Linked DNA regions of Homo sapiens. The protein of the gene in region 6 purifies or fractionates together with the protein of the main gene of each other region. This does not show direct contact. Each region holds a gene or a part of one and is shown on either strand. Other genes may lie near its edges. The genes, in order: PFKP, SEC13, CALU, PEX14, DSG1, STK38L and LIMCH1.

Region 1 (3,500 bases), on a different chromosome or scaffold from region 6:
CAGGCTGGTCTCGAACTCCTGACCTCAAGTGATCCACCTGCCTTGGCCTCCCAAAGTGCTGGTATTACAGGCTGGAGCCACTGCACCCAGCCTTATTTCTGTGTTTCTGTAATCATTGTGCATGTTAACAGACTGCCTTGGGTGAGTCAGGACAGGATTTTGGCAAAAGAACCAGGCCCTTTCTGCCTGGAGCTGTCACTCCTGTGGTGAGGTGCGGGTACGACGTGCCTGTAGCCTGACCTGAGAGGAAAAGCTCCTGTCTTATGAAAGGGCCCAGGGGAACCTCTGGTTGGGGCCCTTTGACCTGACCTGACAGTGAGGGAGGAGTCCGTAGAGGAGAGTGGCCCAGTGGAGGACTTTGGCTTTGCCTTGGGTGAACTGGGAAGCAGGTGGAGGGAAGCAGACTGACTGTCTCCGATAAGGGTGGCTTTGTGGAGAGGAGAGGAGGGGAGGGGAGGCCACAAGTTTAGGGTATCACAAGGAGCAGGCCACAGATGGAAGGTTATGGGGTGGGGCACGTGGCAGGGCAGCCCTGTGTCCACAGACACATCCCGCCAAGGGGACCCAGAGACTTGAGTGTGTCAGGGCTTGGGGTGAATGGGCACTCAGCTGTTACAGCTGGAAGGTAGAGCATGTGAGCTCCAACAGACACAGGCAGGTGGGGGTTAAAGGAGAATCTTCATAGCAGTGCTTAGAATAGCAAAAAGTGGGAAAACCAGCAAAAAACTATCAATAGGAGATTAATTAATTCCATTATGGCACCTGGAATGTGCCGAGACCAGCTCAGTCGGGGAGACCGTAACCCAGCGGCGCTAGAGGAATTAAAGACACACACACACAAATAGAGGTGTGAAGTGGGAAATCCGTGGTCTCACAGCCTTCAGAGCCGAGAGCCCAGAACAGAGATTTACCCACGTGTTTATTAACAGCAAGCCAGTCATCAGCATTGTTTCTACAGATATCAAATTAACTAAAAGTATCCCTTATGGGAAATGAAGGGATGGGCCAAATTAAAGGAATAGGTTGGGCTAGTTAACTGCAGCAGGAGCATGTCCTTAAGGCACATATCTCATGCTACTGCTTGTGGCTTAAGAATGCCTTTAAGCAGTTTTCCACCCTGGGTGGGCCAGGTGCTCCTTGCCCTCATTCCCATAAACCCACAACCTTCCAGCCTGGGCGTTAGGGCCGTTATGAACGTGTCACAGTGCTGCAGAGATTTTGTTTATGGCCAGTTTTAGGGTCAGTTTATGGCCAGATTTGGGGGGGCCTGCTCCCAACAGAATGGAAGGAATTTTTGTCAGCGTTTAATAAGGAGCTTTGTGCTGGTCGAAAGTCAAGAGGTACACAGTATACTCAAGGGCAGTATTGAAGAGCCGATTCCAGAGCGGCTTCCCTCTGGAGCCAGTGGGGCAGTTTGCAAATCCAGGCAGATCAGCTTCTTGGAGGTTTCTCCAACGGGAGAATCTCCCAAGAGTGAGGCTTGCATGTGGGTGGCCTGTGTTATATATGCAATTTTAAATGATCTAGTTGCCGCATTAAAGAAAGGCGGGGCAGGGGGCCGGGAGTGGGGGACTCTGGGTGCCAAGACTCAACATCTGTAATCCCAGCCCTTCAGGAGCCCAAGGCAGGTGGATCACTTGAGCCCAGGAGTTTGAGGCCAGCCTGGGCAACATGGCAAGACCTAGTCTCTACAAAAAATACAAAACAATTAGTCAGGCGTGGCGGTGCACACCTACAGTCCCAGCCCCGTGGGAGATTGAGGTGGGAGGATTGCCTGAGCCCAGGAGTTGGAGGCCGCAGTGAGCTGTGACTGCACCAGTTCACTCCAGCCTGGGCAACAGAGTGAGACCCTATCGCAAAAAAAAAAAAAAAAAAAAGTAGTGAACCCGGGAAGCGGAGCTTGCAGTGAGCCGAGATCGCGCCACTGCAGTCCGCAGTCCGGCCTGGGCGACAGAGCGAGACTCCGTCTCAAAAAAAAAAAAAAAAAAAAAAAGTAAAAACCGGTAAAAGCAAAAAACTATGTTTTATATTCAATCCACTATTTTGATAACAATCAATTATTGTAGATTATTCATATTTTACACTGTTTTCCGTAGTAAGTCTTTGAAACCCAGTGTGTAAAGAAGCTTAAAGCACATCTCCATGTGGACGGGACGCACGTGGCCAGCGGCTCCTCTGAGGGACAGTGTGGTCACGCAATGGGTGGCGTGTGCTGCCTGTATTTAGAAGGTCCCCATGTGGGTGTTTTTGCGAAGGCTCTGAGGGATGTGCAGGGGAGGGCCGACACTGTCCCAGCCACGCAGAGGACCCTGGAATGCAGCATGCTGCCGCCGCGCCCCCGCCCCAGCCCCTCTGCTACCTGAGCTCTTTCCCAGATGTCCATTTGGCTAAACTCCCTCAACTTCTTCCCTTTCCTTCTTTCTCCAAACGTCACTCTCAGGCAGGTCTGCAGGCTCTCCGATTGTCAATGGCAGCCCCTCCCTGTCCTCCACACCCTCAACACCCCCCACCCCGCTTGTTATTTTTCTCCTTAGCACTTACGGCCATCCATCCATGGGCATCATGCATTTGTTCACTGTGTTTCTTGCTTTCGGGTCTCTCCTGATCGGAACAAGCTCTTCCAGGGCCAGAGGCTTCCCATCTTGTCACTGATGCATCCACACAGAGCCCAGCAGAGGTGGCACTTGGGGCACCCGAGCTGGACAGTGGGTTGGTGGTTGAGTGAAGAGCCCTACAGATTTATCTCAAGCCCTCCCCTGACCCTACTAGAAGACACGGTGGTCTGCACAGTCCAGGAGGTCAGAGAGGCCCCCCAGTTCGATGACTTTGAACTGGCAGGGGTGGGGAGGGAACAGCACCTTGACAGAATCTGCCTTTGGCATCCCACCTCCCCATGCCTACATAATCCCTACATTATCAAAGGAAAGACCCCTAGAAGGAACTTTGGCAGCAGTAGTGAGATCAGCGCGGTGTAAGCTCATTTTCTAACAAAGCAGCGGGAGGAGTCGGCAAACTGACTTTATTTCTCAAAAAGAATTTATGCATTGAAATTAACAAGTGAGTGATCAGGAGTGTGGGAAAATTCAGGAAAAGTGGCTCAGTGCTGTGAGAGAGGGCGAGGCAGGGAGCTTTATTACTCCAGACAATGGAGGAGGTAAAAGATAGACCCAGATTATTTCATTAGAGTTCATCTATTCTTTACTTTTTTTTTTTCTTTTTTTTTTTTTTTTTTTGAGATGGAATCTCACTCTGTCACCAGGCTGGAGTGTAGTGGCGCAATCTCGGCTCACTGCAACCTCCACCTCCCGGGTTCAAGCGATTCTCCTGCCTCAGCCTCCCAAGTAGCTGGGACTGCAGGCGCTCACCACCATGCCCGGCTAATTTTTTTTTTTGTATTTTTAGTAGAGATGGGGTTTCACCCTGTTAGCCAGGATGGTCTCGATCTCCTGACCTCGTGATCCGCCCACCTTGGCCTCCCAAAGTGCTGGGATTACAGGCAT
Region 2 (3,500 bases), on a different chromosome or scaffold from region 6:
GGAGAGAGCCCACGCAGACACAGGGAGAACACACAGACTCCACACAGGCAGGGGCCCCCGCTGGGAGTTGTTTTTTTTTTTTTAATCTTGTCAGCATTATAATGAAATGAAATTGAGGATCAGTTGTACATAGAATGAGACAATCTGTGGTCTTTTGTGACTGGCTTCTCCTACTTACTATAATGAGTTCAAGTTTCATCCATATCATAGCGTGTATCAGCACTCCATTCCTTTTTATGGCTGGATAATACTCCATTGTGAATATAGACATTTTGTTTATCCATTCATCAGATGATGGATGTTCTCGGCCTTATGAATAATGCTGCTATGAACATTTGCAGATAAGTTTTTGCATGAACATATGTTTTTAATTCTCTTGGGTCTATACCTAGGTGTGAAATTGCTGAGTCATATGGTAATTCTGTGTTTAACTTTTTGAGGAATTGCTAAACTGTTTTGCAAAGTAACTGTACCCTTTTACATTCCCATCAGCAGTGTATGAGGGTTCTAATTTCTCCACATCCTCACTAACATATGTCTGTCATTTTGGTTACAGCTGTCCTAGTGAATGTGAGGTGGTATCTTATTGTGATTTTTTGGGTTTGTTTTGTTCTGTTTTTTTGAGACGGAGGCTTGCTCTGTCACCCAGGCTGGAGTGCAGTGACATGATCTCGGCTCACTGCAACCCCCGCCTCCCAGGTTCAAGCAATTCTCATGCCTCAGCCTCTTGAGCAGCTGGAATTACAGGCACACGCCACAACACCCGGCTAATTTTTGTATTTGTAGTAGAGACAGGGTTTCACCATTTTGCCCAGGTTGGTCTCAAACTCCTGGCCTCAAGTGATCCGCCCACCTCAGCCTCCCAAAGTGCTGGGATTACAGGTGTAAGCCACCACACCCGGCCCTTATTGTGATTTTTATTTGCATTTTGCTAATCAAAGATGATGGTGAGCATCTTCTGGGGGCCTTTGGAGAAATGACCAGGAGGGGTTTGCACTCTGTAACACCGAGTGAGTGGAAGCGGCCCACAATAAGAAAGGCTGAAGGGGCGGGAAGAAATCTGAGCTCTGTGATCCTCCAGAGCAAGCCTCTGGGACAGGGCCCCTCAGGAGGAAGAACTGCAGGAAATGAAATCACAGTTGAGCTGGATAGGGACACAGGAAAGGAAGGATGAGATGTAGACCAATGTGGGGAAGAGGAACAAAGACAGGAACTCCTGAAAGCCATCTCCCACGTTTTTTAACACCACACAGAAACAAGGGAGAGTTCTGAGCTTAGACTTTCCTGAGCCTTTCTTATCAGGAAAACTCATCTCACCTAAAAATAACAGAAAAGTATTTGAAGTGAAATTGCATACAGTTGTTATATAAGAAACAAGAATATGCAAAATAACCTCCCTGCGGACAATGAGAGCACATTAGAAAGACATGCCCACATAACCGAGCCAAGCTGTAACCTGCTATTTCAAATCAAGCCAGGTGACATTCTAACAATACAAAACAAGAGAGAATAGTGTAAATCAACTTTTTAAAAATCAGAAATAAGGTGACAGAACTCAGGAAAGAATTAGAATTAAAAATCATTTCAGAAGTAAAGAAAGACTAAGACGAAATGCAAGTGTCGATGAACACAGCAGATCCTGCCTGAAAAGGATAAACAGTGTGAAAAAGGAAACATTTCAAGAGCAAAAAAATGAAGAGGTAAAAAGGTTTTGACCAAAAGTAAAGACAGGCAGAAAGGTCAGACATACGAATACCAGGAGTCCCTGGAAAGGAAAACAGAATACCAAAAAGTAATCCAGAAAACTTTCTTAAAATTAAAAAACAAAGATTTGAAACTTGAGATTGAGAGATCATACCCCACACTTAACAATATCAGCCGGGCGCAGTGGCTCAGCCTGTAATCCCAGCACTTTGGGATGCTGAGGTGGGCGGATCACCTGAAGTCAGGAGTTTAAGACCAGCCTGACCAACATGGCGAAACCCCGTCTCTACTAAAAATACAAAAATTAGCCAGACGTGGTGGCGCACACCTGTAATCTCAGCTACTCGGAAGGCTGAGGCAAGAGAATTGCTTGAACCCGGGAGTCAGAGGTTGCAGAGAGCCAAGATCACGCCATTATAATCCAGCCTGGGCGACAAAGCAAGACTTGTCTCAAAAAAAAAAAAAAAAAAAAAAATCAAGGCCAGGCGTGATGGCTCAGCCTGTAATCCTAGCACTTTGGGAGATCGAGGTGAACTCCTGTTTGAGGCCAGGAGTTCAAGACCAACCTGGCCAACATAGTGAGACCCCGTCTCTAAAAAAAAAAAAAAAAAAAAAAATTCAACTCAGCATCACCAACAAAAAGATATAATTCTAGTAAAATTATTAGACTTTAAAGAAAATTTTGGGGGGTTCTAGAGAAAAGGAACCTTGTGACTTAAAGGGGAAAGACAATTAGATTATTGTCAGACTCTTCAATAGTAAGGATTGGTGCAGAAGAAAAAAGAATAACATGTTTAAAATACTCCAGGAAAGAAAGTGTGAGCCAAGGATTTATAACCAGGAAAATTGACTTTGAAGTTCACACAAAGACTTATACACAAAAGGTTATAGCAGCTTTAATAGCCAAAAACTGGAAATAGTCCACATGTCCATCAACAGGTAAATGATAAGTTGTGATATATCCATACTTTGGAAATACTGCGAGCAATAAAAAGAAATGACTGCAATAAAAAGAAATGACTTAACAAAATAAGATGAAGAATAAATTTCAAAATAATTATGCTGAGTGAAAAAAAGAAGAAAAAGGACACACTGTGATTCCACTGCTGTAATATCTAGGAAATGCAGCTGAGCAGGCCCATGGTCACCACGATTGGGGGCTGCAGGATGGGGAGATGGATTACCAGGGGATCCGAGGAAACTTTTGGGAATGATGGGCATGTTCCTTATCTTGATTGAGGTGATGTGATGATCCTACAGGATATATTTTTGTCAAAATTCACCAAATCATGCACTTGATATGCAGTTTATGTCAATTATACTATATCAAAGCTGTTTTTAAAATTAGCTTTTGAGTGTAAAGGATATGAACTATTATCAATATGCAAGAATTCAGGGACTATTGTTTCTAGGAGCCCTTCCTGAGAAATCTACTAGAGGATACAAGTCACACAACTAAAATGACTACAAAGACTTCAGCATAAATATATAGTTACTTGTAGAGAACTAAGACGAAATGAGGGTTAAAAGGCTGGGCCCAGGGCAGGCACAGTGGCTCACACCTGTAATCCCAGCACTTTGGGAGGCTGAGGCAGGCGGATCACCTGAGCTCAGGAGTTCAAGACCAGCCTGGCCAACATGGCAAAGCCCCATGATGTGGTTTGGCTGTGTCCCCACCCAAATCTCATTTTGAATGCCCATGTGTTGTAGGGGGTAACCAGTGGGAGTTGAGTCATGGGAGGAGGTCTTTTCCATGCTGTTCTCTTGATAGTGAATAAGTCTCACAAGATCTGATG
Region 3 (3,500 bases), on a different chromosome or scaffold from region 6:
GTCCCACTTTATAAAAGAAAGGCATATTTTCAACCATTTTGAAACTAGAGTGTAAAAAGCTCCAAGATAATGAAAAAGAAACAATTAGAAATACTAGTGTCTGGATGGGCGTGGTGGCTCACACCTGTAATTCCAGCACTTTGGGAGGCCTAGGCAGGCAGATCACCTGAGGTCGGAGTTTGAGACCAGATCACCTGAGGTCAGGAATTTGAGACCAGCCTGGCCAAAATGGCAAAACCCCATCTCTACTAAAAATACAAAAATTAGCTGAGCATGGTGGTGCGTGCCTGTAATCCCAGCTACTCGAGAGGCTGAGGCAAAAGAATCACTTGAACCCAGGAGGCAGAGGTTGCAGTGAGCCGAGATCATATCACTGCACTCTAGCCTGGGCGACAGAGCAAGACTCCGTCTCAAAAAAAAAAAAAAAAAAAAAGAAAAAGAAATACTAGTGTCAGTCTTGAGAATGCAAATGCCTGAAAAAAAATGAATAAATTCGTTTGCATGTCAAAAGGTTTTAAATTCTTTGCTTTAAAAAAAAAAACCTTGAAAAATGGCCTAATTGAGTTTTAGCTAAGGGATCATTAAACATAATTTTTGGGCTGGGTGCAGTGGCTCATGCCTGTAATCCCAGCACTTTGGGAGGCTGAGGCGGGTGGATCACTTGAGGTCAGGAGTTTGAGACCAGCATGGCCAACATGGTGAAACCCCGTCTCTACTAAAAATAAAAAATAAAATTAGCCGGGCGTGCTGGCCCACACCTGTAATCTCCAGCTACTGGGGAGGCTGAGGCAGGAGAATCGCTTGAACCCCAGAGGCAGAGGTTGCAATGAGCCGAGACCGTGCCTGTGTACTACAGCCTGGGTGAGAGAGAGAGACTCCACCTTGAAACAAACAAAACCCATAATTTTTGATGATAGATTACATGATTTCTGGCATGTAACTCAAAAGGAGTTCCAAGAACTAAGCAATATTGCTATGACAAATCTTCCATCAACTTATTTACTAATGTAAACAAGGTCTGTTAGTACTTCCTCTAAAAAATAAAAATTAGGAATTGGTGCTGAATCCCATTTCACTCTAGGGATAAGTAATTGTCATCCATGGATATGAAACTATTTGAATAAAAATGTGTCAAAGAAATGCATTTAAAAATATATAAACATAAAACGTCTGTAATAAATGTTATTTTGTTCAATTGTGTATTAATAATTGTAATAGTAACTTAACACAGAAGACTCTAAAAACACTTAAGAGCCATATCACAGAACACCATTTTCCATATTTCAATTTACATACACAATGTTCTTGCAAATAAGAATGTCAAAGTGACTAAGGCTTCAAGATAAAATATGTCAGAATATAATTCTGTTGAGGAAGTAAACTGCAAATGAATCTAACAAATAGAAGGCTGACTTGTGAGTTTGAGATCAGCCTGGACAACATGGCAAAATCCCTACAAGAAATACAAAAATTAGCCAGGCATGGCAGCATGCACCTACAGTCCCAGCTACTCGGGAGGCTGAGGCAGGAGGATGGCTTGAGCCTAGCAGATCGAGGCTGCAATGAACCATGATCATGCCACTGCACTCCAGCCTAGGTGACAGAGTGAGACCCTGTCTCAAAAAGAAAAAGAAAAAAAAGAAACAGGAGGTCGGGTGGCTGATGTCTGTAATCCCAGCACTTTGGGAGGCCAAGGCAGGTAGAGCTCTTGAGCCCAGGATTTCCAGACCAGCCTGGGCAATGTAGGGAGACCCATGTCTATAAGAATAATAATAAAAAAAATCAGCTGGGTGTGGTGGTGCTCTTCTGTGGTCCCAGCTGAGGTGAGAGGATCACTTGATCTCCCCACCTTGGAGATCGAGGCTGCTGTGATTGTGCCACTGCACACCAACATGGGCAACAGAATGAGACTCTTGTCTTTTTAAAAAAGAAGAAGAAGAAGAAACAGGATGCGTGTAAAATGTCCAAGTTGGTTAACAGTTTATTCATTTATTTTTTTAAGACAATATCATGTGGTGACTGATAAGTAGTATAAATATCCCCAAATCCCTATAAATTTAAACAAAAAAAAGGGCAATTAAGTGATGGTCACATTGTTGCTAACCAAACGCCATAACTAAAAAAAAAAAAGTACCAAAGAAACATTTCCTTTTTAACTATTATGAAATGTAAAAAATTACGGATATTTTCTTATATACCCACAATGCCACTTTCATATTTTACAAAATCAATTCCTTGGTATCATCTAATACCCAGACTGAATTTAAATTTCTTGATTATCTTTTTAAAGTTGTCGTGTCCAAATTATTCATATGAAAGACGGCAGGTAAGAAGTTGCTATGGTATCTTGTATTTAAATTTTATAGATTTCTTTCCGAATTACTTTCAAAATGTCAATGCTTATCACCAACAGAGATTATTCTTTTTTCTTCTGAGACAGGGTCTTGCTCTGTTGCCCAGGCTGGAGTGCAGTGGTACAATAACGGTGCACTGCAACCTCAAACCCTCAGGCTCAAGTGATCCTCCTGAGTTGCTGGGACTACAGGCACACGCCACCATGCCTGGCTAATTTTTTCTTTTTTTTTGTATTTTTTGTAGAGACAGGGTTGCGCCATGTTGTCCAGGTTGTTCTCAAACTCCTGGGCTCAAGTGATTCACCTGCCTCAGCCTCCCAAAGTTCTGGGATTACAGGAATGAGCTACGGCATCCGGCCCAACAGAGACTATTCTTTACAACTGTTTAAATTTCTTAATTAAATATTTCAGATGCCAACTTTAAAACACATAAGGGAATGCTGTTGGTCAAATTCTTTCAGGAGTTATTTAAGTGAACAAGTCTGAAAATGCTTGAGTTATACGACATCTAAGTTAAGTGTACCTGCATTGCATGTAAGGTATGGGAAAACACCTAAAGAGAAATCTAAATAGTTCCTGCAAGTTCTAAGCAAAGGTAATTATTTAGTCAGTGCTGCCATTTTCCTGACCTTGAGGGTTAAGGGTAGAAGTACTCCTCTGTCTTAAACTCACAAGAGAAATTCCTCACAGCAGGACTTGCCAATTTTTTCCCATGCTACAGCACATTCAGAAAATGTAGTTTGTACGGTCCACTGGATCAGGTTCCTGCCCTAGCTGTCCTGAAAGCCAAGAAGACTTACTCACAGGATACAGATTGGAAAGTTCTGAATTAGGAAATAGACACATGCTTAAAAGATATGGTTTTAAAGGAAGCTAGAATACACAATACACTACAACGTAAGCGCATTTTAAAGCTAGGTGACCATGATAAACTATTTGAATTTCTATTTTTATTTATTTTACTTTATTTTTTTGAGACAGAGTCTTGCTCTGTCGCCCAGGCTGGAGTGCAGTGGCGCGATCTCGGCTCACTGCAACCTCCGCCTCCTGGGTTCAAGCGATTCTCCTGCCTCAGCCTCCTGAGTAGCTGGGATTACACAGGCACATGCCACCACACCTGGCTAATTTTTATATTTTTAGTAGAGA
Region 4 (3,500 bases), on a different chromosome or scaffold from region 6:
GCGATCTCGGCTTACTGCAACCTCCGCCTCCCAGGTTCAAGTGATTCTCCTGCCTCAGCCTCCCAAGTAGCTGGGGCTACAGGTATGCACCACCAGGCCTGGCTAATTTTTTTTTTTAAGTAGAAATGGGGTTTCACCATATTGGACAAGCTGGTCTCAAACTCCTGACCTCAGGTAACCTGCCCACCTCGGCCTCCCAAAGAGCTTGGTATTACAGGCGTGAGCCACTGCACCTGGCCTTAAATGAGTTATTTATGTAAAAATGCCAGAACAGTGCCTGAAACAATGTGTTGTCTATTATTATTATTATTCAATTTAATAAGCTCTGAGTTTTCACTCACAAATGGATCTAAACCTTTCTTCAAGTTCTATTACGACATCTTTTGGGGTATGATTTTTCATGTGTTGACTACTTGTCTAGTAAAGTTCTTTTATTCAGAAGTAATTCCTTAAAATTTCAAGGAATGCCCTGAATGCTAGTGTTTATTCTAGCTGTCCTTCATGACTTTTGCATTTCAGGAACATACTTACTTTTTCATAATGGTATAGTCTTTTTAGTCTATCCTCAAGACGACTTGCTGGAATTTCATTTATTGCTTCCTTTGTTCTGTGTTCCCCACATTGCTCTGTTTTATGTGGTTGATCTATTGATTGAGACAGGGTCTCACTCTGTCACCAGAGTGCGGTGGTGTGATCATGGCTCACTGCATCCTTGCCCGCCCAGGCTCAGGCAATCCTTTCGTCTCAGCCTCCTGAGTAACCGGGACTACAGGTGTGCACCACCATGCCTGGCTAATGTATTTTTTTTTTTTTTGAGACAGAGTCTCGCTCTGTCGCCCAGGCTGGAGTGCAGTGGTGCGATCTCAACTCACTGCAAGCTCCGCCTCTCGGGTTCGAACCATTCTCCTGCCTCAGCCTCCAGAGTAGCTGGGACTACAGGCACCTGCCACCACGCCCGGCTATTTTTTTTTTATTTCATTTTTAGTAGAGACGATGTTTCACCGTATTAGCCAGGATGGTCTCGATCTCCTGACCTCGTGATCCGCCCACCTCGGCCTCCCAAAGTGCTGGGATTACAGGTGTGAGCCACTGTGCCTGGCCTGGCTAATGTATTTTTAAAACAATTTTTGTAGTGGTGAGTTCCTGGCTGGGCGTGATGGCTCATACCTGTAATCTTAGCACTTTGGGAGGCTGAGTTGGGAGGATCGCTTGAGGCCAGGAGTTTGAGACCAGCCTTTGCAATATAGGGAGACCTCGTTCCTACTGAAAATTAAAAAATTAGCCAGGCATGGTAGTGCTTGCCTGTGGTTCCAGCTACTTTGGAGGCTGAGGTGAGAGCATCACTTGGGCCTGGGAGGTTGAGGCTGCAGTGAGCGGTGATTGTGCCATTGCCCTCCAGCCTGGGTGAGAGAGCAATACCCTGTTTGGGGACGGGGGAAGAGACAGAGAGAGAGAAAGTGCTGAGATTATAAGCATGAGCCACCACGCCCAGCCAGCATGGCTGATCTCTCATTGAAGTCCTTTCTAGTGTGTACACGTTGGAGCCCGTAGGAATGAGAAACGTTATCTCTATTTCCCAACTTTCCTACTAGCTTTTCTTCCTTCGCTGAACAGCAGAGGCATGGTTCAATCTGATTACTTCACAGTTACTGAGTATCGAGTATTATTGCAGAAGGTAGATTTCCTATCTGTGGAGGTTCACTGGGTACAGTAAATTTTGCATTGAGAGGCTACAGAAGCAGGCAGGGAGAAGAGCAGAGTGAAAGAGTGGAAGAGCATGGCTTCGCATCCTGGCAGGTTTTGGTGGAACTTCATCACTCACAACTATTGGACTTATCACTCCACCTTTCTGAGTATGTTTTCTCCTCTGTAAAACGAGAGCAATAATAGTTACCCTTAAAGCTGGGTGTGGTGGTGCATGTCTGTAGTTCCAGCTACTCAGGAGACTGAGGCTGGAGGATTGCTTGAGCCCAGGAGTTGGAGTCTGTAGTGCACGATGATCACATATGTGAATAAACCCCTGTACTCCAGCCTGGGCAACAGAGTGCAACCCTATCACTTAAAAAATAAATAAATAAAATAAAAAATAATTACCCTTTTAGTGTTGACTGAAATCACAGATGTGAAGAGCACCTGCTGCATAGTAAGTGCTCAGAGTTAGTTTTCTTCTCCCAGTCTTTACATGTAGTTTTGAGAGTCTGTTGAACTCTTGAATAACAGCAGGTCAGACAAGGTATTTGCCCTCTCAATGTTTTTTTTTTTTGTTTTGTTTTGTTTTTGAGATGGAGTCTCCCTCTGTTGCCCAGGCTGGAGTACAGTGGCTCAATCTCGGCTCACTGCAACCTCAGCCTCCCAGGTTCAAGCGGTTCTCCTGCTTCACCTGCCTCAGCCTCCTGAGTAGCTGAGACTACAGGTGTGTGCCACTACGCCTGGCTAACTTTTTTTTTTTTTTTTTTTTTTTTGAGACGGAGTCTTGCTCTGTCTCCCGATCTGGAGTACAGTGGCACAATCTCGGCTCACTGCAACCTCTGCCTCCTGGGTTCAAGCGATTCTCCTGTCTCAGCCTCCTGAGTAGCTGGGACTACAGGTGCCCGCCACCATGCCCAGCTAATTTTTTTGTATTTTTAGTAGAGATGGGGTTTTGCCATGTTGGCCAGGCTAGTCTTGAATGCTTGACCTCAGGTGATCCACCTGCCTCGGCCTCCCACAGTGTTGGGATTACAGGTGTGAGCCTGGCACCTGGCCTCAACTTTTTATTTTGAAAAATTTCTCACGTATAGAAAAGTTGAAAGGATAATACTGAGAACTTCTGTAAAATTCCCATAAAAACTTAACCAAGATGCACTGTTCACATTTTGCTGAATTTGCTTTATGTCAGTCTCTCTCTCTCTTTCTCTCTCTCTCTCTCTCTATATATATATTTTTTTTTTTGGAAGGATTTGTGGTAAGTTACAGACATCAAGGATATTTCATCCTAGAATATTTCACCTTATCTCTCATAAGAGTAAGGTTATTCCCCTGTATAACCACAATATCATTATCACACAAGAAATTTAAGTGTTGATAAATAGTATTATTTAAAACAGAATCTGCACTCAAATTTTCACACTTAAAAAAAATCAGAATCTAGTGAAGAAACAGAGATTGCATTGATTTGTCTCTTTAGTCTTTTTTTTTTTTCCTTTCCTTCCTTTTTTTTTTTGTTTGAGACAGAGTCTTGCTCTGTTGCCCAGGCTGGAGTGCAGTGGTGCAATCTTGGCTCACTACAACCTCCGCTTCCTGGGTTCAAGCAATTCTCCTGTCTCAGCTTCCCAAGTAGCTGGAATTACAGGTGCCCGCCACCATGCCTGGCTAATTTTTTTGTATTTTTAATAGAGACAGGGTTTTGCCATGTTGGCCGGGATGGTCTCGAACCCCTGACCTCAAGTGATCCACCCACCTCGGCCTCCCACAGTGCTGGGAGCCACCGCGTCCAGCCTTAAACTTTGTTTGTTTGTTTG
Region 5 (3,587 bases), on a different chromosome or scaffold from region 6:
TGACTTAAGAAAGCAAAACTCACTAAGTTTACTTCTCGAATTGAAGCAAGTGAGGCCTGACATGGTTGTCATCACTAGTGGCAAATGACCTTCCAAGTAAGCAGATGGGAACTGAATTGTGTTTTCAGGTTTTGTTTTTAGTAGGTGATATTCATTCGTATCCAGCTCTTTATTACATAGCTCTGAAGTTAAAATGATTTACATAGGCCGAGCTGTGGACAAAAAAAAAAGAAGCAGCAGCTTGTAGTATGCTTAAGCTTTGGGGAATTTTTTTTTAAGGGGATCTAAAAAAATGTTTTTAGAACATGTAAAATGTTTAATGGTGAAAGTTGGAAAAGAATTCTTCTGTAAAGTAATACCATGCTAATTATTCGCTTTTAGTAAGTAAAGTAGTGGTTGCTTTAGCAAACCTCTGCTGCCATTTTGCAGGAATCAACCAGGAACCTTTAGCAGAATTGACAATATGGTGTTGATAAGCATGAAATAATAATAGAAACCTATTCTGCTAGTTTATCTCACCCTCTAATTTTTCTCACTAGCATAAATTTTAAATTCCTGATTTGATTTGTCAATAAGATCTTGGCTTATATATGCTGATTTATAGGTAGTGTCCAAATTATATAGTATAACATATTTTTCTAGTTTCAAAATTTAGTAATGTCCTATTTATGATATATCATTTCTGTGTGTTTGCTATGTAGTATTACCCAATTAAAAATCTCTAAAAAGAATTAAAGCATTCTAAGAAAAAGGTAAATTTACTATTGCATGGTACAGAAATTTTTTCTTTCTTAAATACAATGTTACTATAAGCTCACTAAAATGAAACTCTATATGACAAAATAAAATTAGAAAAAAATTTGCCCTGGAGTTGTGAATTATATACAACTTTTAAAGAATTTACCCCAATTACTCAAATTTCCCAGGAAATTACAAAGCCAAAGAATATTCAACTTCCTCCACTGGTCAAAAGAGGATAGGAGTGAATTACTGAACCTAGAGCTATTTTGCTCTGTAACAACAGATAAGGCTAATATTTTAAAAGCCACAGTATACATCTTCTTTTAACTCTGTAGAATATGTAAAATTTTGATAGTCTGTAGTATGCTAAATGCAGAAGTATAAATAAAGTCATTCAAAGGGAGTCTTTTCTTTTTCTGACACTTAGGGGGCCACATTAAGGATGGGTAATCTTTCCAGGAATAAAGTCAAAAGGTATTTATTAAGACATACTTGAGTATGCCTGGGTCCAGGAGTTTTAAGGAATAGAAATAAGTATTAATGAATTAATTAAGTAATTTATTAAAGGGAATGGTAGCTGACCACAGGAAACTTGCTTACTGTTTTGATATGAAATATCATCACAAGCTTTTCTTAAGACATCTGATATCTTCCAGAGATATTTTTTAGGTTGTCTTGCAAACAACAAAATCACTGTCTTTAATAACTGTTGCTGTCAAAATCCATTGGTTGTTAAGATCCCCCCAATTTAGTTACATCTGAACTCCTAAACACTGTTAAACGATGGGAAAAACAAGAAAAAACATGGCCATTTGAGTCATTGAGTCATCTATCTTTCTAGGAAGATACTTTCTAACCAAACTTTTCTTCCAGGATTGCAAATTGATGGGAAAAACAAGAAAAACTGAAGTATTAGTCACCTATCTTTCTGGGAAGATACTTTCCAACTAATTTTTTCTTCCAGGATTGCACACTGATTTTCCATTTAGTCCTAAATTTTAAAATTCCCTTTTCAAGACATCAACGATTTTAGTAGTTATTTAAAGGCATGTCATTTTTCAATGAAGAAGTTTTGGGCAGAACTTCATTCTTCTTCTTAGATGTTTACTCTAGATCATATACATCATGTCATAGACCAAGAAGAGATATGGAAATTATTTTATAAGTGAATACTATAATTAGGATTCAAGCTGAGTTTCAGATCAACTTGCTCTTAACAAAAGGAAAAAGAAATAGTAATTTAATACTATGTATGTATGGTTTGAAAACAAACCACAATGTTTATAAAATATCTATCTGACTGTCTAAAGAGGTAATCTTTAGGAGCAAAAATCAGTGTATTATAAATACTTTACCATTTAATATCAACCAAAATACCATCTCAAGCTAATTTTGACACTGAATTACAGATATATCTGCTACATATTATTTACTTCTAAGCATGTTGTCTGATGTAATTGCATTTGCACTGAAAAATTAAAAGAAAAAGTACATATTTAGGGTTATTTATATATCTTCATCTAGACATCTGTTCTACATTTGTGTATAAAGTTTTTAGCATCATAATTTTTATTCAAGAAAATGTTCTGACAAAATTTTAATTATATGTCTTCAAAAATTACATTTTTTACTCTAGTAAGTAGATGTTTTTAGTTATCTGGCAATTTATTTCTGAATTTATACCAATGTTTGATTGTCATGGTACAAAATATATGACACCCTTTAACTTTTGCTGGAGTTGAAAGGCATTATAATCTTTAGCATAAATGGCCATGACTATTTTGGAAAGACATTTAAGACCCAAAGCAAACTTTTAAAAGTATTTGCCACATTTTCCCATGCCTATTTCATAAATTCCAACTTTTTTTTTTACAATTTCTGGATTTTTAAGACCCATTTCACATTGCACTAGGATACAGCAGTCCACAGTAGAGTGCTACTCTCCTTGAAATCAAATCTGTCTTCCACTTCCGGATTATTCAATTTATGTTAGGACAAATCTTGACTAGATCAACCTGTTTTCCATCAGATAATTTTAAAACAATGTGTAATCTTGTTTGTCTACATTCTCTCCCCAGTTTAGCTGTATTTGAATTACTAAATGCTTTATCGTCAAACTGTACCTAGTCTAACTTATTTTTCTTTTGCTGTCGTTTTACAAGCATTTTAAAATTCTAATATTCATCTCTGGTGGTGTTTAACACAAGGTTCTCTTATTCAAGTTTCAATATAAAAGTTTTTGGATTATTTGGGTGCTAGTTTCTTGCTTGGTTATCTGTTCGTTTTTTTAAGTTGATTTGTAATTTCCAAAGAGTTATGCATACAGCAATAAAATTATTAATATGCCTCCCTTATCTTTTCTGAATTGTAAGCAAGGGGGAGGTTTTAGACTGTAAAACCAAAGTTATCAAATCTAGTTATTATCATCCTGTATTGGAGGAGATACAATTCTTTTATTTTCACAATGTTAAAATATGTTTTCATTCTCCATTTCCTAGCTATCTTTTTTTAATGTGTACTGAGGAACCTACTCTCTGGACCACTAATTATAGATGCTAGAGCCCAGCCTTGACCAGGTGGTTAGCCCCACAAATGAACAGATGATAAAAAGCTGCATTTTTAGTTCTTATTTAATACTTGTAGCATCTTTATACTTTTACCTTTCTTTCTTTCATACTCTGCATTTTTATTTTTGCCTACACCAGCATTTTATTTCTTTTAAAATGACTTTTCTTCTTTTTTGCCCTTTAAATCATACCCTTTCATCTTTACTGGGATGCATCTCCTTTTGTTCTCCAATGCCACTTCCAGACTATTATCAACTTCATCTTGCACAAAATCTTACC
Region 6 (3,500 bases):
CTATCTGAGGATGGCTTACTACTGGAAAAAGCAATATATAGAGGAGTTAAATTTTCACTTGTATTTATTTTGCATGTTTATCATGTGCAAGGCTTAGTGGTAGGTAGTGAGTCAGATAATATGTTATAGACTACTATTTTTCAGTCTATTTACTTTCCTGAGGGAATGCTGAATTAGTTTTCCTTTCATCACTTAGTTGAACAAATATTTATAGAGTGTCCATATGTGCCAGGCATTTTATAAGAATATATCATTTCTGCCCCCACAAGAAGCTCAGTTAAGTTATTTATATATATAGCCTTCAGTCTATTTCAAAAAGAATGAAAAAGTTGAACCTAGAAGACCTGGCTTCCCCACTCACTACTAATGTGTTCTTGGGCAAATTATTCAATTTCTCTGAGGCTCAGCTTCTGCTTACATAAAACTAGAATAATAATACCTGCCCTAATAGAGTTGATATGAAGATGAAACAATAAACGGCATGTGTTTTGTAAACTACAAACTACAAAAATAAGCATGAGGTATTTTCATTATAAATGTAATTCCAGGGTACTGCTTATCCTTTAGGAAGCTATGCAGTTTTTAATTCTTAATTCATATAAAATCTTACAAAAATGATTTCTACAAGGCAGTAATTCTCAACCAGGGGTAGTACTCTTGGGGCCATGGCAAAATGTAGGACCACAGATTTTGTCATCTCAGTGACATAACTGGCATTTACAGGGCAGGGGATCCAGGTGCTAAAGAAATTTCCTGCCCCAAACACTGAGTCCTCTCTACTTCTCCCTTGGGAAACACTCGATCTAAGGCTTGGCAACTACTGGCCATGAGAATAATAAAACACACACCTGAGTAATCACCCATGAATATTTTGTAAATAGGGGGGTACAGAATTCCCCCACCATAATTTTGAGCAGTATTCAGTTTTTCCCCTTTAAAAATAGGGAATATTGCAATTATTCTCAATTGCAAAACCTGATCTAAAATGGACACATTTTAAAAGTAGAACAAAGTTTTTCTCCTTAATGTGTAACTCAATACATTTAAAAATACTGAAATGTTTTACAAGTTTTTGCAGTTACTTAGGTTAATGAGATAATAAGCTCAATAATGCAAAGGTCATTTTATTTGGTTTTAGAGGGTATTAGCCTATTATTTTTCAGTCTGTTTACTTTCCTGAGGGAATGCTGAATTAGTTTTCCTTTCATCATTTGGTTGAACAAGTATTTATAGAGTGTCCGTATGTGCCAGGCATTTTATAAGAAATGAGAAAAAGAAAATCCTAAGGCACATTCTTAACCTGTAGACTGTTGATGGACCATGTTAACAGGACAAAGGGAAAGAGGAGAAAGGGGAAGCAATTCTTCTATTTGCTCAGTTATAGAAAGGAAATAGTATGGGGTTAAAAATAATGTAATTCTATATTAAAGGAGTAATTAAATTTATCTGTGGCAAAGCCAGCTTTTTCAAATTTTATCTGTTTTATTGTAACACTGTTTACATCCCAAACTTCCTGTTTACTTTGTCTATAAAGAAGTTTTTAGAAACTCACAACCACCTTACTTGCTGATTGATATTTGTTGTATCAGGATTTGTAACACAGTTATGAAAAATGGAAAAATGGAAATCACAAGGCATTCATTACAATTGCATTCACCTCAGTGAGTTTTATTTAAAGTGCTAATTACTAGTAAACAGCTTACTTGTAGGTATGCTCAGTAAACTACTCTAAAGTTACAAAGTAAAAACCAACACTTTGCTTTACAGGCAAGGAAACTTAACAGAGAAACTAAGAAAACTGTGTGATCCCAGAGCAAGCGCTACCATTGTTATGAAGTAAATACTAATTATTATAAAGATAAAAATAATCAAGTTAAAACCAGGTAAGATTTTAGAACCAAGGCATAAAATTCTCTTAAAAACTGGTTGACTCACCAGTTGTCTCCTGTTCTTCTTCCAAGTTTCTGCTTTCCTCTTTGAGTTCATGTTCTGAAATGCTAATTTCAACAATATGGAATTGTAATCACGAGGGAAAAATGCTCTCCACAAAAAGAAAATACATATACATCTAAAACACAGTGGATTAAGGAGTGGGGAAAGGGAAAGAACCTTCTGTTCTCTACAGTATCTTAACCAGGGGAAAGAAGAAAAACAACAACCAAACTTACAGAAGTCACTTGGTGGGTTGTGTGTGAGATTTCTATAAAATTCAGTCCTGTGAGCTTTCTTTAATCCCGTACATAAACCAAAATCAGATAATTTTACATGACCCTAAAAAAAAATCCAGTAAAATTAGATCATATTAACTTTGAAAACAAAAAGCCTTGTTATAAACTCCTCTATTAAATGGCAATTATAATAAAAATTCTTAGCTTGGGATTTATACACGTAAAATGTAAAATTTTAAGTATCTGATGATGATTTTTAAAAGTAGAAAATGGAGGGAGATAAAAAGAGAGCCATATTCCCTGTTGTCATTTAATTCCCAAGTCCTCTCCTAGTACCTTATCATATAATGTTGTTTAGCAATATTCTAAATTGCAGTTGCTGATTTCCATTCACAAAATCAGCCCTACTGCTCTAAAAAATAATCAACAGCCTAGTAATTCACCAGTTTATTCACATGCCTTGGCATCCAATAAAAGGTTGTCTGGCTTAATATCCCGATGGATGAAACCCAACTGGTGGATCGCATCTATTGCCAGAACAGTCTCTGAAATGTAGAACTGTGTTTCCTCTTCTGTCAAGGTGTCTTTCTTCATTAGCAATGTCATCATGTCACCTAAATAAAGGATAGTCAAATATATTATTATTGAAAATGCCTCAAAGGTGGAATACCTTGTAAAAGCTTTCCTGCTTTTTTTACTTTTTTTTTTTTTTTTTTGGAGACAGAGTCTCACTCTGTTGCCTGGGTTGGAGTGCAGTGGTGTGATCATGGCTCACTGCAACCTCCGCCTCCTGGGTTCAAACAGTTTTCATGCCTCAGCCACCCAAGTAGCTGAGATTACAGGTGTGCACCACCACACCCAGCTAATTTTTGTATTTTTAGTAGAGATGGGGTTTTGCCATGTTGGCCAGGCTGGTCTCAAACTCCTGGTTTCAAGCTATCTGCCTGCCTTGGCCTCCCAAAGTACTGGGATTACAGGCATGAGCCACCATGCCCAGCTAGCTTTCCTGAGTTTGCATTTTATGATCTACCCAGTATATTTCTAACCACATCTTGGGACAAATAAAAGTGCTATTGCATAGCAGAAGTTTCATGACTTTTAATGGTTTTAAGGCAGAGACCATGTGAAATCAAATCACAAAAGAGCTGATAATGAAGTAATATCTACCACTCAACTTCTAGAATTAACTGCTGAGGAAAATGTCAAACTGCAAAAAAATCAGAATAAGTGCACCTGGAAACGAAATATATTCTTTTAGAGTTTAGTGGGACATTATCCCACTAAAAAAGGCACCTGCAGACATTCTTTTATTTTCAAGGAATTTTAAAAGTT
Region 7 (3,500 bases), on a different chromosome or scaffold from region 6:
TTTCTCAGGACTTAATCAAGAAAGAGGAAGAAAGGAAAAAAATGGAGAAGTTACTGGCTGGAGAAGATGGGACAAGTGAACGAAGGAAAAGCATCAAAACCTACAGAGAAATTGTTCAAGAAAAGTGAGTTCTTTCTGTTGTCGTTTTTAATGTACAATATTATCTAGGTGTTTTTTTTTTCTAAAAATTATTGGCTGTCACAAAGGTTCTGATAGTAACATTTTATATTCCCTGTACTATCTCTTCAGTGCTACCTTCGTTTCTACCAAGGTCTTCTTTGCAATTTTCATTAGTTGACTTTGTTATTGCTTCTCCCATGTCCTTTAGAGAGCGGAGAGAGAGAGAGCTGCATGAAGCATATAAGAACGCTCGGTCCCAGGAGGAGGCAGAGGGGATCCTTCAACAGTACATTGAGAGGTTCACCATCAGTGAGGCTGTTCTCGAACGCTTGGAGATGCCAAAAATTCTGGAAAGAAGCCATTCAACAGAGCCAAATTTATCCTCCTTCCTGAATGACCCCAATCCCATGAAATACCTGCGGCAACAGTCACTGCCTCCACCCAAATTCACTGCCACTGTTGAAACCACCATTGCTCGTGCCAGTGTTCTGGATACCAGCATGTCAGCAGGCAGTGGGTCTCCAAGCAAAACTGTCACTCCCAAAGCAGTGCCTATGCTGACACCCAAGCCTTACTCCCAGCCCAAAAATTCTCAAGATGTTCTGAAGACCTTTAAGGTAGGACAAGTTCCTTAAGAGTAGAACCAAAGCTGAACTCCAGGGAGTGGATGGAAAGAAGCATCATGACTCAAGAAAATGTCATTCTTTTTACCATACAAAAGAAAAATGTGTTGACATTTACAGCTGTGAAAGTCATAGGTCTCTGGAGATTTGGTTTGTAAATGCTTCAGGGACAGCTGTTTCCCTCAATTGCTGTTGTTAATACAGATGGACTCCTATAAGACTGATAGTGGAGTCGTCTCCATGAGCAAGGTCTATTTTCTAGTTTGATATAATGGCATGATTTCTCTGTACTAGTGGTAAAAACCCTAATTTAGTAATACCCTAGTATTTCTAGGTATCAGGAGGTATGGCAGACTCCTCAAAACAAAATTTTATTTGCTTTTGGTTCAAATAGAAGTATATGCAGCTACCTCTCTTTTAGGAAGAAATTGGCATTCAGCATCCATTTGACATTGTAGCATCCAAAAAGATTTTACAATTGATAAAAATACAAGGAACACATGGGAACATGGGACATACTTGGTCCTCAAATGAGACAGGTTTTTTAAACAAGTGGAAAGAAACTGGGTTGTTTTGCTAATGAGTGTGTAAAATAGTGTTCCAGACTGAAGAACTTGTGGAAACCAAACATCTTTTCGCTTCCTCAAATTCAAGTACTTTCTCTTATATCAGGAGGAAGCACTCATCCTTTGTCTTAAGTTCTTTTGACTTGTAAAGAAAAATCAGTTCCCCTTGTCCTTGCACTCAATGAGTTTGTAATAAACAGAGGTGGAATGCATCACTTGGAGATGTGACCATTAGATAGAAAAGTTTTCGTAACTGATTGAGCAGTGTGATGCCACGTAGCTTCCTTGCTGTATTTCAAAGAGAACAAAACCACACTTTCTGACTTTTGCTGAAATAACTCTGAATGTATCTCAAAAATCTCTATCTTAGGCTTTGATAGAACAAAAATGTCCAGACTGTCTCATCTGGATCACATTGAGCTGTTTGTCCCCTTATAAGGGCAGGGGCCATGTCTCTGTCATTCATGGCTTCATCCTGAGAGCCTGGCACAGGTGCCCAGGACAGAGTAGGCACTCAGCAAGTGCTCCTTAAATAAATAAGTGAATTTTTCCTGAGAAGATGAGCTACTAATCATATGGACTCACACACACACAGATAGACACACACATGCTCATGTGTGCTCAGTGGTCCACCTAAGTGTTTCAGAAGCTTTCCTTCACCTAGGGCCTATGATAATGAATGGCTATGGTATTTCCTGAAGGAAGATTCTATGTTGAGGTGGCCCAGAATAGGATAGAGAATACATTTATTTAACTGGATTTCCAAGGCATCTGACCAAACATTCTAGATGTCCACTTTCCCTCCTTTATCTAAATAGTGCAAAGTGATCGTTTAAACAGAAGGATTAGCATAAATGATTTTATGGCAGAACTTCAGCTCTGAGAAAACTCTGTTCTTCACCATGGCGGCAAAGTGGAGCAAGGTGGTATGGCGGCCTCAGGAAGCACTTCCATGGAGGGGGTTATTAGAGAATTTGAGCAGAGGCCCTCTTAGAGCTGGAGATTACTCCTCATCACTCACTAGTGGGGGTCCCCTGCCTCATTGTAGGCCTCACTGGCTAGTATTTCTACTGATGGCCTACAGTTCCATTACTGAGTGCATGGACAGCAACTTTGGTCAAAGGTCAAAGTAACATGCAAATCAGACCGTTGTTACCAGCTAATAATGCCAGGACAGAAGCTAAGGGGTAGGGGTGTGTGTGTGTGTGTGTGTGTGTGTGTGTGTGTGTGTGTGTCTTCTTGGAGGGCAGGGCAGGGAATACAGGCCCCGTTGTTTTTCCAGTACAACAGAATTAAGAATAAAGGAAGATCAAGAGAAATAGTTTAAGGCAGTGTTTTTCAAACTGAAAGTTACCACCCGTTGCTAGGTTATAAAATCAGTTTAGTGGTTTGAAGCCAATATAAAAAAAAAAGAACTAGAATAGAATATAATAAAAAAACATAGTGTGTCACACAATGAAGGCAAAATTGCTTGGGGCAACTTCTGTTTCAGTTATATTTATGTGTGTGTGTGTGTGCTGAGTTGTGATTTAAATTTCTTTTTATGGGTAACAAATAATAGAGTAAAAAGACCAGTGGCTTAAGGTAAATAAACTATAACTAATATCCAGCCTTCCATTATTTCTTTTAAAAGATTTTAAAAGGCCTAATGAGGCTGGGCGAGGTGGCTCACACCTGTAATGCCAGCACTTTGGGAGGCCGAGGCAGGCAGATCACTTGAGACCAGGAGTTCGAGACCAGTCTGGACAACATGATGAAACCCTGTCTCTACTAAAAATACAAAAATTAACCAGCCATGTTGGCATACGCCTGTAATCCCATCTACTTGGGAGGCTGAGGCATGAGAATTGCTTGAACCAGGAAGGTGGAGGCTGCAGTGAGCTGAGATTACACCACTCCACTCCAGCCTGGGTGACAGAGTGAGACCCCGTCTCAAAAAATAAATAAATACATAAATAAGAGGCCTAATGATAATAATGGCTAATAGTTAAGCACTTAAAATGTGTCAGGTACTGTTCTAAATTCTGTACATTTGATAATCCATAAAATCTCCATAACAGCACTATGAGGAAGATACTGTTACTTTAAATTTTGCATCAGAGCACAGAGAATAGGAAACCTGTTGAAGATTCCATGCCTGTTAAATGGTAGAGCCAGGTTTCAATCAGGTCACCTAACTGCACAGCTCCCT

The links.
Region 1: the proteins of STK38L (region 6) and PFKP purify together in Homo sapiens (pull-down; one large-scale study listed by IntAct). This does not show direct contact.
Region 2: the proteins of STK38L (region 6) and SEC13 purify together in Homo sapiens (pull-down; one large-scale study listed by IntAct). This does not show direct contact.
Region 3: the proteins of STK38L (region 6) and CALU purify together in Homo sapiens (pull-down; one large-scale study listed by IntAct). This does not show direct contact.
Region 4: the proteins of STK38L (region 6) and PEX14 purify together in Homo sapiens (affinity purification with mass spectrometry; one large-scale study listed by BioGRID and IntAct). This does not show direct contact.
Region 5: the proteins of STK38L (region 6) and DSG1 purify together in Homo sapiens (affinity purification with mass spectrometry, with the first as the bait; one large-scale study listed by BioGRID). This does not show direct contact.
Region 7: the proteins of STK38L (region 6) and LIMCH1 purify together in Homo sapiens (affinity purification with mass spectrometry; one large-scale study listed by BioGRID and IntAct). This does not show direct contact.

The regions. Positions count from the first base shown.
Region 1 is NC_000010.11:3,074,048-3,077,547, forward strand, and holds part of PFKP (ATP-dependent 6-phosphofructokinase, platelet type), read left to right. Parts: intron 1-3,500. UniProt on the Homo sapiens protein: Catalyzes the phosphorylation of D-fructose 6-phosphate to fructose 1,6-bisphosphate by ATP, the first committing step of glycolysis.
Region 2 is NC_000003.12:10,307,613-10,311,112, reverse strand, and holds part of SEC13 (protein SEC13 homolog), read left to right. Parts: intron 1-3,500. UniProt on the Homo sapiens protein: Functions as a component of the nuclear pore complex (NPC) and the COPII coat. At the endoplasmic reticulum, SEC13 is involved in the biogenesis of COPII-coated vesicles.
Region 3 is NC_000007.14:128,763,359-128,766,858, reverse strand, and holds part of CALU (calumenin isoform a precursor), read right to left. Parts: intron 1-3,500. UniProt on the Homo sapiens protein: Involved in regulation of vitamin K-dependent carboxylation of multiple N-terminal glutamate residues. Seems to inhibit gamma-carboxylase GGCX. Binds 7 calcium ions with a low affinity.
Region 4 is NC_000001.11:10,477,950-10,481,449, forward strand, and holds part of PEX14 (peroxisomal membrane protein PEX14), read left to right. Parts: intron 1-3,500. UniProt on the Homo sapiens protein: Component of the PEX13-PEX14 docking complex, a translocon channel that specifically mediates the import of peroxisomal cargo proteins bound to PEX5 receptor.
Region 5 is NC_000018.10:31,356,160-31,359,746, forward strand, and holds the end of DSG1 (desmoglein-1 preproprotein), read left to right. Parts: 3' UTR 1-3,087; downstream 3,088-3,587. UniProt on the Homo sapiens protein: Component of intercellular desmosome junctions. Involved in the interaction of plaque proteins and intermediate filaments mediating cell-cell adhesion.
Region 6 is NC_000012.12:27,313,786-27,317,285, reverse strand, and holds part of STK38L (serine/threonine-protein kinase 38-like), read right to left. Parts: intron 2,783-3,500; coding exon 2,628-2,782; intron 2,272-2,627; coding exon 2,169-2,271; intron 1,998-2,168; coding exon 1,936-1,997; intron 1-1,935. UniProt on the Homo sapiens protein: Involved in the regulation of structural processes in differentiating and mature neuronal cells.
Region 7 is NC_000004.12:41,646,157-41,649,656, forward strand, and holds part of LIMCH1 (LIM and calponin homology domains-containing protein 1), read left to right. Parts: coding exon 1-124; intron 125-328; coding exon 329-737; intron 738-3,500.